Homo sapiens: one gene and its partners. The protein of the gene in region 4 purifies or fractionates together with the protein of the main gene of each other region. This does not show direct contact. Each region holds a gene or a part of one and is shown on either strand. Other genes may lie near its edges.

Region 1 (2,678 bases), on a different chromosome or scaffold from region 4:
TTTTTTTTGAGATGGTGTTTCATTCTTGTTGCCCAGGCTGGAGTGCAATGGCTCGGTCTTGGCTTACTGCAACCTCTGCCTCCCTGGTTGAAGCAATTCTCCCTGCCTCAACCTCCCAGGTAGCTAGGATTACAGGTGCCTGCCACCATGCCTGGCTGATGTTTTTGTATTTTTAGTAGAGACGGGGATTCACCATGTTGATCAGGCTGGTCTCGAACTCCTGACCTCAGGTGAGCCGCCCACCTCGGCCTCCCAAAGTACTGGGATTACAGGTGTGAGACACCGCGCCTGGTCTGATTTTTAAAAGTTAATTAATTCAGTTTAAAATTGACCGATGAAAATTGCATGTATTTGTCATGTCCAATATGACGTTGTGGACTCTGCACACAGCGAGGAATGGCTACATCGAGCTAGGCAACGTAGGCATTCCTCCTGTGCGAATCATTTTTTTGTGGTGAGAACGCTTAGAATCACCTGGATTAGCAATGTCCAATAATGTAATACATTGTTATTAACTGTAGTCACCGTGTTGTACATGATGATTCTTGAATTGATTTCTCCTCTCTAACTAAAACCTTGTTTCCTTTGAGGAATTTTCCCACTTTGAGTGCCCTGGTGTCCCCTGTCTGCTCAGCTCAGGGAGTTTCTACTCCTCCCTCAGCTCTCAGCTCAGAGAGAGCTTCCCCTGACTTTGCAGAGGAGGTCAGCTCCACCGCCCACCTGTCCCCTAGATCCCTGCACACTTACCCACAGGAAACTTATTGCAGTTCGCAGCTGCAGATTTGGACAATTCTTCGATCAATATCTGTCCTCCCTTCTAGACGTCCACCTCCAAAGGGCAGGCATCCTGTATGTGTTTCTCACATTTGCGGAATTAGCAGCTCATGAAAAGCGTCTTTAAACAGATTGATAAGTAACTGAGATATGGTTAAAAGAAAGAAAAATGAACAAATGGGTGGGTTTGGGGAGATGCTGGTCAAAGGATAGAAAATTTCGTCTAGACAGGGAGAGTAAGTTCAGGATTGTGTAACATAATGACTAGAGTTAATCACAATATATCATACGCTTGAAAATCGCTAAGAGGGCAGATTTTAAATGTTCTCACCACAACAATTAACTACGCAAAGTGAGGTTATATTAATTAGCTTGATTCAGCGATTCCACAGTGTATACCTGTATCAAAACATCATGTTGTACACCTTAAATACATGCAGTTTTAATTTGTCAATAATAAGGAATGAATGAAGACGGGACGAGTGAATTGAAGCCCTGCCAGCTCTCTGCCCCGCTCAGGGATTTTGCTAATTTTGACACAACCTTCCTGTTTCAGGGCGTCAAACCCGCCCTTCCTCCTCCACCCCAAGCCCAGTTGAGATAAATGGGGTTTTTCAAGAGCCTTAATAACAAGGAAATGCAAATTAAGCTGAGAAGAAAGTAGAAACTATAGAGGAAAACCCAGAGGTGGTGTCTCCACAGAGATCTGCATTAGCAATGGGGACCTGTCACGGGCTGGGCATCTGCTGTGAGCAGATCAGGGCTGGGGGCTTCACCCTCACCCCACCAGACCCTCAAAGGAGCCTGGCAACCCCCGTCCCACACTCAGTCCCACCCGGGGACCGGCCAGTGCCCTTCAGGCCCCAGCACGAGCCATCTCCAGAGCCCTCGCTTCCCTGTCCCTTGTCCTTCACGAATGACCCTGTCATCCCCATCGTGTGCCTCCCTCCCACCCTCTGTCCCTCTAGAAAGTGGCCCTGGGCTCTGCAGCAGGCATGAAGGGCTCCAGGCTGCTCCGACACTTCCCACGTGACCCTGAGCAAGGCCCAAGTTGTGAGCAAGTCTCAGGGTCCTCACTGTCAACTGGGAAAAAACTCTGCAGTGATGAGAATCACATGCACGTAGAAGGTGCAGGAGGCGTGGGAATGTTCTAAGGTTGGGCTGTGGTCGTGGCTGCATAACTCTATAAAATTGCTAAAATCCCTGAATTGTGATCCTAAAATGACGTGTGTGGCATGGTGACTTCCTACAGTGGACGCTGAGATCCTTCTTTGCTTCCCTCTTAGGGGCCCTTCCCAGACCCTCCATCTCGGCTGAGCCAGGCACTGTGATCTCCCCGGGGAGCCATGTGACTTTCATGTGCCGGGGCCCGGTTGGGGTTCAAACATTCCGCCTGGAGAGGGAGGATAGAGCCAAGTACAAAGATAGTTATAATGTGTTTCGACTTGGTCCATCTGAGTCAGAGGCCAGATTCCACATTGACTCAGTAAGTGAAGGAAATGCCGGGCTTTATCGCTGCCTCTATTATAAGCCCCCTGGATGGTCTGAGCACAGTGACTTCCTGGAGCTGCTGGTGAAAGGTGAGGACGTCACCTGGGCCCTGCCCCAGTCTCAGCTCGACCCTCGAGCTTGTCCCGAGGTCCCTGGTCCCTGTCCCGGCTGCTGTCCTCTCTCTGTGGCCACCGTTGCCCTCTTCCTGACCCCAAGCCCTCCCCTCCCCTTCTTCCTCTGCACACACCTCCCCTCTGCCCTCACACCTGCTTAGGTCCCTGGAGCCCTGATCTCCTCTGGACGCCACAGATGGCGTGGACACTCAGTCCCAGCATTGGGTTGGCTCAGAGCTGGCTCTGCTTGGCTGGGTGGGGAGTGGGTTCCCAGAGATTAGGGGGCAACCCCCCTACAAG
Region 2 (3,500 bases), on a different chromosome or scaffold from region 4:
GACCTGCAATGACAGAGAGACTCCAGCCGACCTGGGACATTTCCTAGGGAAGCCGAGTGCTTCATCCAACTGCCATGTACCCAGAGTGAGGTCCTGGAGACCCGGCGACAGCTCAAGCCTGGCTTGGAGTCTCTTCATTATTTTGAGCGTTGGGCTGACTTGATACTTGAGGCTTCAGACTAACTTCAGTGTACGATGGGATTGGACAGGATTTGAGGTTGAGTCACATCATTCCGTTCTTTCTTCCTCTCCCTCCTCTTTCTTTGATTGAGCCCCTCCTATCAGTCAGGCCATCCCCCAGGCACGGGGGGACACATGAGTGGCACAGTCCTGGCCTCCAGGAGCTCTGAGGCCGAGAGGGAGATAGACACATGAGAGACAGGGCAGCGTGGTGGGCTTTGTAGTAGGGGTGTACCCATGACGCTGGAGGCAGGGCCAGGAGAGGGAGGAGCGGGTCCCAGGAAGACTGAAAGGAGTGAACTAGGTCTTGAAGGACACCTGCGGGCCTCCCAGGTGCAGAAGGAGGGGAAAGCTACCTGGTAGCCAGAATGGGGTGTGCAAAGGCATGGCTGGTGGTGTTTGTTGGGCTGGTGGGTGGTTTGGGATGGTGAGACCCAGTGCTGGAGGCTGGAGGCTGGAGGACAGTAGGGCAGTTGAGCCTGGAGGCAGCTGGGTCTAGTTGGGGAGGGTCTCACCTGAACTCAATCCTACAAAGAACAAGAGGAATCATGGGAAAGCTTGAATTGGACGGTGTTCTCGGAAGAATGCCAGAGGGAGGCAGCAGAGAGGATGAGCTGGTGCGGGGAGGGGCAGATTCCAAGTGAGAGTCGAAATGGCAGGGGTGCATCAGAGATGATGAGGGCCCTGGGCTCAGTTCTGGAGGTGCCTTTTGGCTGGGAGCCCAGGACTCTGCTGAAAGTTGTGCCAGGGGGTTGGCGGAGGGAGTCGGGGGTGATGCCGAAGGCTCCACCCTGGGCACCCGCTGTTGATGCCAGGAACAGAGCTCAGAAAGAGAAGATTCCAGGGGCGAAGGGATGGGGACAGGGGTTTCGGTTTTGCATACATGACATCTGTGGGGCCTGTTGCATCTCCAGATGGAGACTTCTGGTGAGAAGTTTGAAGTCAAGGTCTGGGGCTTAGGAGAGAGGTAGGGGTGAGATGTCCATCTGGGAGTCCTGGGCTTATGGGTAGCTGAACTTAGGGCACAGAGATCCGTTTCCTGGATAGTCTGGGGTGCAGAAGTGGGAGCAGCATTAGATGAGGAGCTGGCCCATCCAGGGGGACTTTGCTGCCCCCGTGGGTCTGCGCAGCTCTACAGCCTGGGCAAGAAGAGCCACAAGCCAGAGCACATGTGATGCCATGAGGGGCCGCGAGGTGGCAGCCAGGAGCCGCCGCCGTCCATCCTGCCTGCGGGCTTGTCCTTCCAATCAGGTTGGAAACATAAGAGTCTCTCCAGCGGCTACAGCTGAGGGGAATCCTAAAGATCCAGTTGAACCTTCTTATTTGCAGACGAGTCAGCTTCATATGTTATTTTCTAGCATCACGGATATACGATAGGGAGTCCCGGCATTGTCTTGTGTCACCCAAAGACCCTCTCTTAGAAGTGTGGATTTCTCCCGAGCAGCCCCCATCTTGCGTGGCACTCAATTGATCGCTGCGTGTGTTTCCAGGACTGTCATTGCCTTTAACAGAGGGCAGGGGGCTCGTTCGGTAGTGAGGATCCCAGAGTGGGCCGTGAGCCCACCAGCGTGAACACAGAGCCTTGTGGGTCCAGGTGAGAGAGTGAGAAGGCAGGTCAGGCATGCCAGAACCACTGGCAGCAGGAGAGAGCAGCGTTTCCAGGCCTGAGAGTGGCTGACTTTCACTGTGATTCTTTATTCCCTCAGGGCTGAAGAACAACATGAAAAATACAGGCCCAGTCAGGACCAGGGGCTCCCTGCTTCCCGGTGCTTGCGCTGCTGTGACCCCGGTACCTCCATGTACCCGGCGACCGCCGTGCCCCAGATCAACATCACTATCTTGAAAGGTCAGATGGCTGCAAAGACAAGCACGGGGTGGCCGGGCTGCTCTGTGCTGATCCGGAGGAAGGGATGGAGTCGTTAGGGTGGGGCTAGGCGAGAGCAGAATGGCTCCCTCGGGACAGGGAGCAGAGGCAGGCAGGCTGTCATCTAGAGGGGAAGGCACAGGAAATTCTGATTTTGAGGCTCTGGCCCCTCTCCAAGAGGAGGGGTTGGAAAGGGGCCCACAGGACCAAGAGCAGGAGAGGGAGCCCAGAGGCTACTCGGGGTCTCGTCCCTCCAGTTGTATGTGGACGCCAGGCTTCTAGGCCCTTTGCTTTGGGGCTTGGTCCCCCAGCCTGCTTTCTGAAATGCCACCTGCTCGCTCCGGTCCTGCACACGGCAGATAACCCTGCACAGCCCCGTGAAATCGAACTGGAAACACTTGCAGCCTAGATCCCCAGCTGGCCCCGACATCTGGAGTTCATTTGCTCAGAGCGAGCCGTCGGTCTGGCCGCAGAGCCCATTGCTTTTGGACGAACCCGTATGTTCCATTTTCTTTTTTTTCTTTTCTTTTTTTTTTTTTTTACCAGGGCTTTCCAGAAGGAAAAAAAAATTATTGCTTCTGGGCGAAAATAGAACCATCCTTGAGGTTGAGTCTGTTTGCTTGGCCATTTTGGGAATCACAATACCTCTGTGCCAGGCTGGGACGCCGCCCGTGGCAGGGGGCTGGGGGCAGGAGTGAAGCTTCTGCCAGGTCAGGGCTGTGAGGACGAATCAGGACAGCGCCAGGGACCGGAGAGTGAGCAGCCAAGGCTCAGGACACTACCGGATTGCTCCATTAACAGCACGCGTTTTCCCATCCCTTTTAGGGGAGAAGGGTGACCGCGGAGATCGAGGCCTCCAAGGGAAATATGGCAAAACAGGCTCAGCAGGGGCCAGGGGCCACACTGGACCCAAAGGGCAGAAGGGCTCCATGGGGGCCCCTGGGGAGCGGTGCAAGAGCCACTACGCCGCCTTTTCGGTGGGCCGGAAGAAGCCCATGCACAGCAACCACTACTACCAGACGGTGATCTTCGACACGGAGTTCGTGAACCTCTACGACCACTTCAACATGTTCACCGGCAAGTTCTACTGCTACGTGCCCGGCCTCTACTTCTTCAGCCTCAACGTGCACACCTGGAACCAGAAGGAGACCTACCTGCACATCATGAAGAACGAGGAGGAGGTGGTGATCTTGTTCGCGCAGGTGGGCGACCGCAGCATCATGCAAAGCCAGAGCCTGATGCTGGAGCTGCGAGAGCAGGACCAGGTGTGGGTACGCCTCTACAAGGGCGAACGTGAGAACGCCATCTTCAGCGAGGAGCTGGACACCTACATCACCTTCAGTGGCTACCTGGTCAAGCACGCCACCGAGCCCTAGCTGGCCGGCCACCTCCTTTCCTCTCGCCACCTTCCACCCCTGCGCTGTGCTGACCCCACCGCCTCTTCCCCGATCCCTGG
Region 3 (3,500 bases), on a different chromosome or scaffold from region 4:
TCAAATTGAACTTAGTTCCTTTAGCTGATTAGTAAATTCTCAAAGTAAAAGCACCAGTTGCCACCTTTAAATAAATAGCTGTTTCTGTCTCCAGAACTGTCTTTTTTGAGACAGGGTTTCACTCCTTTTGCCCAGGCTGGAGTGCAATGGCATGATCTCGGCTCACTGCAACCCCCGCCTCCCGGGTTCAAGTGATTCTCCTGCCTCAGCCTCCTGAGTAGCTGGGATTGCAAGCACCCACCACCACGCCCAGCTAATTTTGTATTTTTAGTAGAGACGAGGTTTCACTATGTTGGTCAGGCTGGTCTCGAACTCCTGACCTGAGGTGATCCACCCACCTCAGTCTCCCAAAATGCTGGGATTACAGGTGTGAGCCACCAGGCCTGGCCCAGAACTGTTTTTATATAGGTGACTATATGTCCTGATTTACTTGGGGGCAGTAGTAACTTATACCTATTATTTTGGTATAATAATTTTTATTAGTGCCTCCTTTCACTCACAACAGCAACCTGGTTTGGAAGATAAATTATAATGTCTCCTATTTTTATATTACTATATTCTGATGCTTGAACAAGCATGAACTTACCCATGGACATGCTTTGTTTCTCTTCTAATAGATCCTGAACATCAGAGAGCTAATGGTAACTTAAAATATTTTGAGTATATAATGGCTAAAGAAAAAGATGTCAATAAGTCTGCTTCAGATGACCAATCTGATCAGAAAACTACACCAAAGAAAAAAGGGGTTGCTGTGGATTACCTGCCAGAGAGACAGAAGTACGAAATGCTGTGCCGTGGGGAGGGTATCAAAATGGTAAAGTGGAAAAGCCAATTGTGTGTATGTGAATGTGTGTGTGTATGTGTTTGTACACAGTTCTGGAGAGAATCAGTTATTTTATATTTAAGCCTATGTGATAAAAATCAGAATGACTGCATAAAATATTACAGTATGTCAGCTTAGGCAACATAGACCCCATTACAAAAAAATTTAAAAATTAGCTGGGCATGCTGGTGTACACTTGTAGTCTTAGCTACTCAGGAGTCTGAGGTGGGAGGATCACTTGAACCAGGAGTTCAGGGGCACAGTGAGTTATGATTACACCACTGCACTCCAGCCTGGGCTACAGAATAAGACCCTGTCTCTAAAAAACTTTTTTTTTTTTTTTTGAGATGGAGTCTCACCCTGCCACCCAGGCTAGAGTGCAGTGGCATGATCTCGGCTCACTGCAAATTCCGCCTCTTGGGTTCAAGCGATTCACCTGCCTCAGCCTCCTGAGTAGCTGGGATTACAGGTGCCCGCCACCATACCCGGCTAATTTTTGTATTTTTAGTAGAGATGGGGTTTCACCATGTTGGCCAGGCTGGTCTCAAACTCCTGACCTTGTGATCCACCTGCCTTGGTCTCCCAAAGTGGTGGGATTACAGGCGTGAGCTGCTGTGCCCAGCCTAAAAAACTTTAAAAAAAAAATTACAGTATACCATTCTCTCTCTGTGGGTGCCACATTTAATATGTTCCAATTATTAGTAAAATAGCTTTAAAATAAAGCTTGTGAATCATATACTATTACATATGTTTGGGGCAATATTACCTTTTTCATTTGATCCTTCCAGGGTGAAGGATCAAATAAGTTTAAAGGAAGTGATAGTTTTTTTTATATTTAATGCAAGAGAGATTTCAGCAGTATTTTTTTTTTTTTTTTTGAGACAGAAACCCACCCTATCACCCAGGCTGGAATGCGGTAGCGCAGTCTCGGCTCACTGCAACCTCCGCCTCCTGGGTTCAAGCAATTCTTGTGCTTCAGCCTCCCAAGTAGCTGGGACTACAGGCATTCGCCACCATGCCCGGCTAACTTTTTTGTATTTTTAGTAAAGACGGGGTTTCCTTATGTTGGCCAGGCTGGTCTCAAACTCCTGACCTCAGGTGATCCTCCCGCCTCGGCCTCCTAAAGTGCTGGGATTACAGGCGTCAGCCACCACACTCATCTGTTCAGCAGCCTTAATTAGAGACAATAACACTACTCTGTGCATCTTATGAGATACAACAGATTCATCTATACAATAATCCCTTGTAGTTTTGCTCCTAGTTAATCTTCACAAGATTGCTTAGTGAAATGCTTTAGTCTGTTTAATACTGAAAATGCAGAAAGTTTTCAACAGATTTTGTCTTTAATATTTCTTTAAAATATATCTATAAATATTACTTTGTTTATTGTATATGTATTTATAACTCAGAATTCCAGTTCTATAGATGTTAATAGATACTAGGCCAAAAGCAAAAAGAACAAAGTCTGGGGAACATTTGTTAAACAAAGTTGAACATAGGTTTTTGTTTAGCCTCAAAACTTCTCAGAACCTTTTTATGATAATGTGCATTGTGATATGATATACATTCTTTCTCAATATTAATTGATTATGGAACCTTTTGAAAAGGAATTTCATGTGGTATTAGTTTTCAGTTGAACACAGGCTTGCATAGAAGGAGTTAGTGAATTTTTGGAGTAAGTACTTTTAGGTGTAAACATTTGAAAAGTGTTTAACATTTTCTTTACTACTGGTAAACTCAAGCTGGGCTTTGCATTTCGATATTGATGACTGTTGACAGCTTAACCACTAACAGCAAAGTATACAATACGTATGGTGACACTTTCAATAGATAGGTTCATGGAGTCCTAGGAGGACATGCTTGAGCTAATGAGTAAATACAAAGATGGTGACACTGTTAGACTCATTATTTTCTTTTTTTTTTCTCTGAGACGGAGTCTCGCTCTGTTGCTCAGGCTAGAGTGCAGTGGCGCCATTTCGGCCCCTGGGTTCACGCCATTCTCCTGCCTCAGCCTCCTGAGTAGCTGGGACTACGGGCGCCTGCCACCACGCCCAGCTAATTTTTTGTATTTTTAGTAGAGATGGGGTTTCACCTTGTTAGCCAGGATGGTCTTGATCTCCTGACCTCGTGATCCGCCTGCCTCGGCCTCCCAAAGTGCTGGGATTACAGGCGTGAGCCACTGCACCTGTTCCCTCATTAAACATTTTCTTTTCTGTTTCATTACTAAATATTTTAGTATGTATCTTTTAAAGATACAAATTCAAAATAACTACAATACCATTATCACCTAAAAATTCACAAGTTTTGTAATATCAAATATCTAGTGTTCAAATTTCCGCAGTAAGCAGAAATTTTTATTGCTCTTAATAACTCTTAAGGAACAAAATAAAACTGTAGATATAAAACAAAGAGTCTGCTAATTTCCCGGTTTGTTAATGTAACACATACTCAACTTTGCCTAAGATCAAAAGAACATTCTTGCCAGGCACGATGGCTCATGCCTGTAATCTCAGCACTTTGGGAGGCCAAGGTGGGTGGATCACCTGAGGTCAGGAGTTCAAGACCAGCCTGGCCAACATGGTGAAACCCCATCTCTACTAAAAATACAAAAAGTTAGCCGAGCATGGTGGCAGGGGCCTGTAATCTCAGCTACTTGGGAGGCTGAGGCAGGAGAATT
Region 4 (3,500 bases):
TGATTCTGGCCTCTGTCTTTCCTGTTGTAGCACCTCCCCCAACACTTCTGCTCAGTCAGCCCCAGGGCGAGGGAGGCCCATGGCTGCCCACCTGTTCTTTCAGGGCTTTGGAAACCTGAGTTAAGCTATCTCCTTCTCTGGGAGCCCTAACCCATTAATATGCCCTTCCTGGAGCTCCAAGGCCCTGGTGGTACCCTTGAGCTTGTGGTCCCCTCAGACCCTCAGTCTCTTCTCGCTGTTTCACAAGGTGGTTATTCAGGTAAATATTCATTCTGTTGGCTCCTACTTGTGTCTGGCCTGCTTGTCTGATTTGGATGTAGGACGTTCCTATTGCTGAGAACACGTGTGCCAGCTGCACATGTCATCCCTCGTGGCATGGGCACCTACAACTCCCACATGTACAGACACGTACATATAATTGTACATAACACACAATGTGCATGATTCTGACATTTCCTTACCCCTGAAGAGCTCCTCTGCCCCCCACCTGGGTGTATGTCATGGAGGGGGCACATGTGTAAATACACAGCTCCCCACTCCATCTGTGCTCGAGAGCCACCTAGAGCTTCGTGTATTCTCTCCCTTGCTGGCCTAGCTCCTGACTTGGAGTGCTGGGAGATTTGGGTTCCTGGAGTTCTGGGCCTGCTCTGCTGTTGGCTCACTTAGTGACCTTGGCCTGGGCCTCAGTCTCTGGACCTCAGTCTTCCAAACTGTATGCTGGGTTGGGGGCCTCCAGGCTTCCTGGGGAGCCAGGGTCAGAAGGCAGGTGGTGAAGGCAGGATCTAGCTGATGGTCCAGAGTGAGGACTATAAACTTGCTCCCTCCCAGGTTCCCCAGGCGTCCAGCCGTGCAGCAACCTTGGCCTGAGCGCACCTAATGCCCCCCTGCCCCTTCTCTTCTAGGTGCACAATGCCCACCTTCACAGCAGGAAGGACTCAAATTGGAACACAGTAGTAGCCTGCCAGCCAACGTGACTGGTGAGCACCCAACCATCTCATCGCGCCGTCCCTGCAACCTTCCTCTGGGAGTGATCTGTACCCCTCTCCACCTGCTCAGCTGAGCTCTTCACCTGATGTCTCCCCCAAAGGCTTCAACCTCATCCACCGACTCAGCCTCATGAAGACGTCTGCCATCAAGAAGATCCGCAACCCCAAGGGGCCTCTCATCCTGCGCCTGGGGGCGGCCCCCGTGACCCAGCCCACGCGGTAAATGCATCCATGTGACCACTGAGAATCAACACTGACCTCAGCCACACTCCTCAGCAACTCCAGATGTGGGGCTTAAGCCCAGGGGCCTGTCTGTGGGTCATTGCATCCCAGCCCCTGCCAGGAGTCAACCTGGTCTCCACCCCTGGGCTTGCAGGGTGGGCTGAGAGGTGGTACCTGGCAGACCTACCTTCTGTCTTTCCCCTGTCTCTGGCCAGCAGTGGGTGGGAACAGGTCTGCATCCTGTGGGCACTGTGAGAACACAGGATGTGGGCGGGAACCTGGCAAGAGTCATGTGCGTGTGTGCATGTGTGTGTGTGCGCACATGCGTGTGTGTGCACCCATGTGTGTGAAGTCCAAATTCCCACAAGCCCTGGCCTGGCCCCTGCTTGCCTCTTCAACCTCAGCTCTCAAAATGCTCTTTTTTATCTCTTGCTGCTCTGGTCATGCTGAACCCTTTCCATCTTTTTTTCAGTATCTCTCCTTCCACCCTTGCTCCAGTTATTCACCTAGGGTATTCTGGGTTCATTGGAAGCACTTATTCAAATTGCAATGCGATAGCGAAATAGTCATTCTGGGGATTCTTTGCTCATGGCCTCCCTGCCCCCATCAGACGTGAAGGCTCCATGAAGGCAGGCAGTGCCTCTGTATTTTCACCACTGTGTATGTGGGTTTTTTGTTTGTTTGTTTGTTTGGTTGGTTGGTTGGTTTTCTTTTTGAGACCAAGTCTTGCTCTGTTGCCCAGGCTGGAGTGCAGTGGCGTGATCTTGGCTCACTGCAACCTCCACCTCCTGGGTTCAAGCAATTCTCCTGCCTCAGCCTCCCGGGTAGCTGGGATTACAGGCGCCTGCCACTACACCTGGCGAATTTTTTGTATTTTTAGTAGAGACGGTGTTTCACCATGCTGCCCAGGCTGGTCTCCAACTCCTGGCCTCAGGTGATCCGCCCACCTCGGCCTCCCAAAGTGCTGGGATTACAGGCATGAGCCACCGCACCCAGCCTTCACCACTGTTATTCCCAGCAGCCAGACCCGCACCTAGCTCGCGGAAGGCACTCAGTAAAGGTATGGAGAGTGAATGAATGTATATGATGGAAGATGTGTGCCTGTGGATGTCTTGGGTAGGCTCAGCAGTCCTGAGGGCTCAGGGTGGGCAGCATTTGGGTCCTCATTGGAGCCTCAGGGCACCCTCCCTGCTCCATCTCCAGAAGAGTATTCCCTCGGGGTCTCCCGGAGGAGTTTGCCCTGGTGCTGACACTACTGCTGAAGAAACACACCCACCAGAAGACGTGGTATCTGTTTCAAGTGACCGATGCAAATGGGTATCCACAGGTGAACCTCCCCTGTGCCCTGATTGCCTCTTAGGGCATTGGGTAGCACCAGTCCAGCCCACCTTTCATCCCGGCTTGTGACTTCTGGGGTCTCCCTGCTCCATCCTGTGCCTACCCTCAAGCCTGTCCCCAGCCCACCAGTACCTACCTCATTCTTTCAGGATGTATAGCTCCTTGACCCCAGCCGGCTTTCTTCTCTTTCTGGGCCTCAGTTCCCCTCCTGTGAAATGAGTTCAAGGTCCCTGAACGTGCCCATGGTGTGACTCTGGAGCTCTGAATCTCTGTCCTTTCCCTTTCCAAATTCTACCCAGATATCCCTGGAAGTCAACAGCCAAGAGCGGAGCCTGGAGCTCAGGGCCCAGGGCCAGGATGGCGACTTTGTGTCCTGCATCTTCCCAGTGCCCCAGCTCTTCGACTTGCGTTGGCACAAGCTGATGCTGAGTGTGGCTGGACGTGTGGCCTCTGTGCACGTGGACTGCAGCTCAGCCTCCTCCCAGCCTCTGGGGCCCCGACGACCCATGAGGCCTGTGGGCCATGTATTTCTAGGCTTGGATGCTGAGCAGGGCAAGCCTGTCTCGGTGAGTGCTAGGTCAGGCCCTGACCTCTGTTCCTGCCTTCTGGGAACCTGAGTGGGCTTCCTGGAATCCGTATCGGAACAAGTCCTTCTCCTGCTTAGAATCTTCCCCTGCTTTCCTGTTGCCCTCCAAATGCAGCCTAAACATATTCACCTGGCATTCAAGGCCCTTCATGATCTGGTCCTTATAAGTGTCTGCAGCACCATCTTCCTTTACATCTCTCCGTGCAGCTCTGCTCTGATCAATTCCATCCTAGCCATCCAGCGCACCCAGTGCTTTCACACTGCCGTGCCTTTGCCTACGCTGTTACCTCCACCTGGAATGCCTTTCCTTGCATACTCATCCGCTGAGTAGCTACCAGCCCTTCAAAGCCCAGCATGAATGGAACCTC

Evidence for each region. The genes of interacting proteins can lie anywhere in the genome.
Region 1: the proteins of COL16A1 (region 4) and LAIR2 purify together in Homo sapiens (co-immunoprecipitation; one large-scale study listed by IntAct). This does not show direct contact.
Region 2: the proteins of COL16A1 (region 4) and C1QTNF1 purify together in Homo sapiens (co-immunoprecipitation; one large-scale study listed by IntAct). This does not show direct contact.
Region 3: the proteins of COL16A1 (region 4) and P4HA1 purify together in Homo sapiens (affinity purification with mass spectrometry; one large-scale study listed by BioGRID and IntAct). This does not show direct contact.

Annotation. Positions count from the first base shown.
Region 1 is NC_000019.10:54,505,831-54,508,508, forward strand, and holds part of LAIR2 (leukocyte-associated immunoglobulin-like receptor 2 isoform a precursor), read left to right. Parts: intron 1-2,060; coding exon 2,061-2,354; intron 2,355-2,678.
Region 2 is NC_000017.11:79,044,669-79,048,168, forward strand, and holds part of C1QTNF1 (complement C1q tumor necrosis factor-related protein 1 isoform 1 precursor), read left to right. Parts: exon of another isoform or gene 1-217; intron 218-1,886; coding exon 1,887-2,026; intron 2,027-2,869; coding exon 2,870-3,420; 3' UTR 3,421-3,500.
Region 3 is NC_000010.11:73,048,367-73,051,866, reverse strand, and holds part of P4HA1 (prolyl 4-hydroxylase subunit alpha-1 isoform 2 precursor), read left to right. Parts: intron 1-617; coding exon 618-814; intron 815-3,500. UniProt on the Homo sapiens protein: Catalyzes the post-translational formation of 4-hydroxyproline in -Xaa-Pro-Gly- sequences in collagens and other proteins.
Region 4 is NC_000001.11:31,697,518-31,701,017, reverse strand, and holds part of COL16A1 (collagen alpha-1(XVI) chain precursor), read left to right. Parts: intron 1-902; coding exon 903-977; intron 978-1,087; coding exon 1,088-1,205; intron 1,206-2,126; exon of another isoform or gene 2,127-2,268; intron 2,269-2,411; coding exon 2,412-2,535; intron 2,536-2,845; coding exon 2,846-3,112; intron 3,113-3,500. UniProt on the Homo sapiens protein: Involved in mediating cell attachment and inducing integrin-mediated cellular reactions, such as cell spreading and alterations in cell morphology.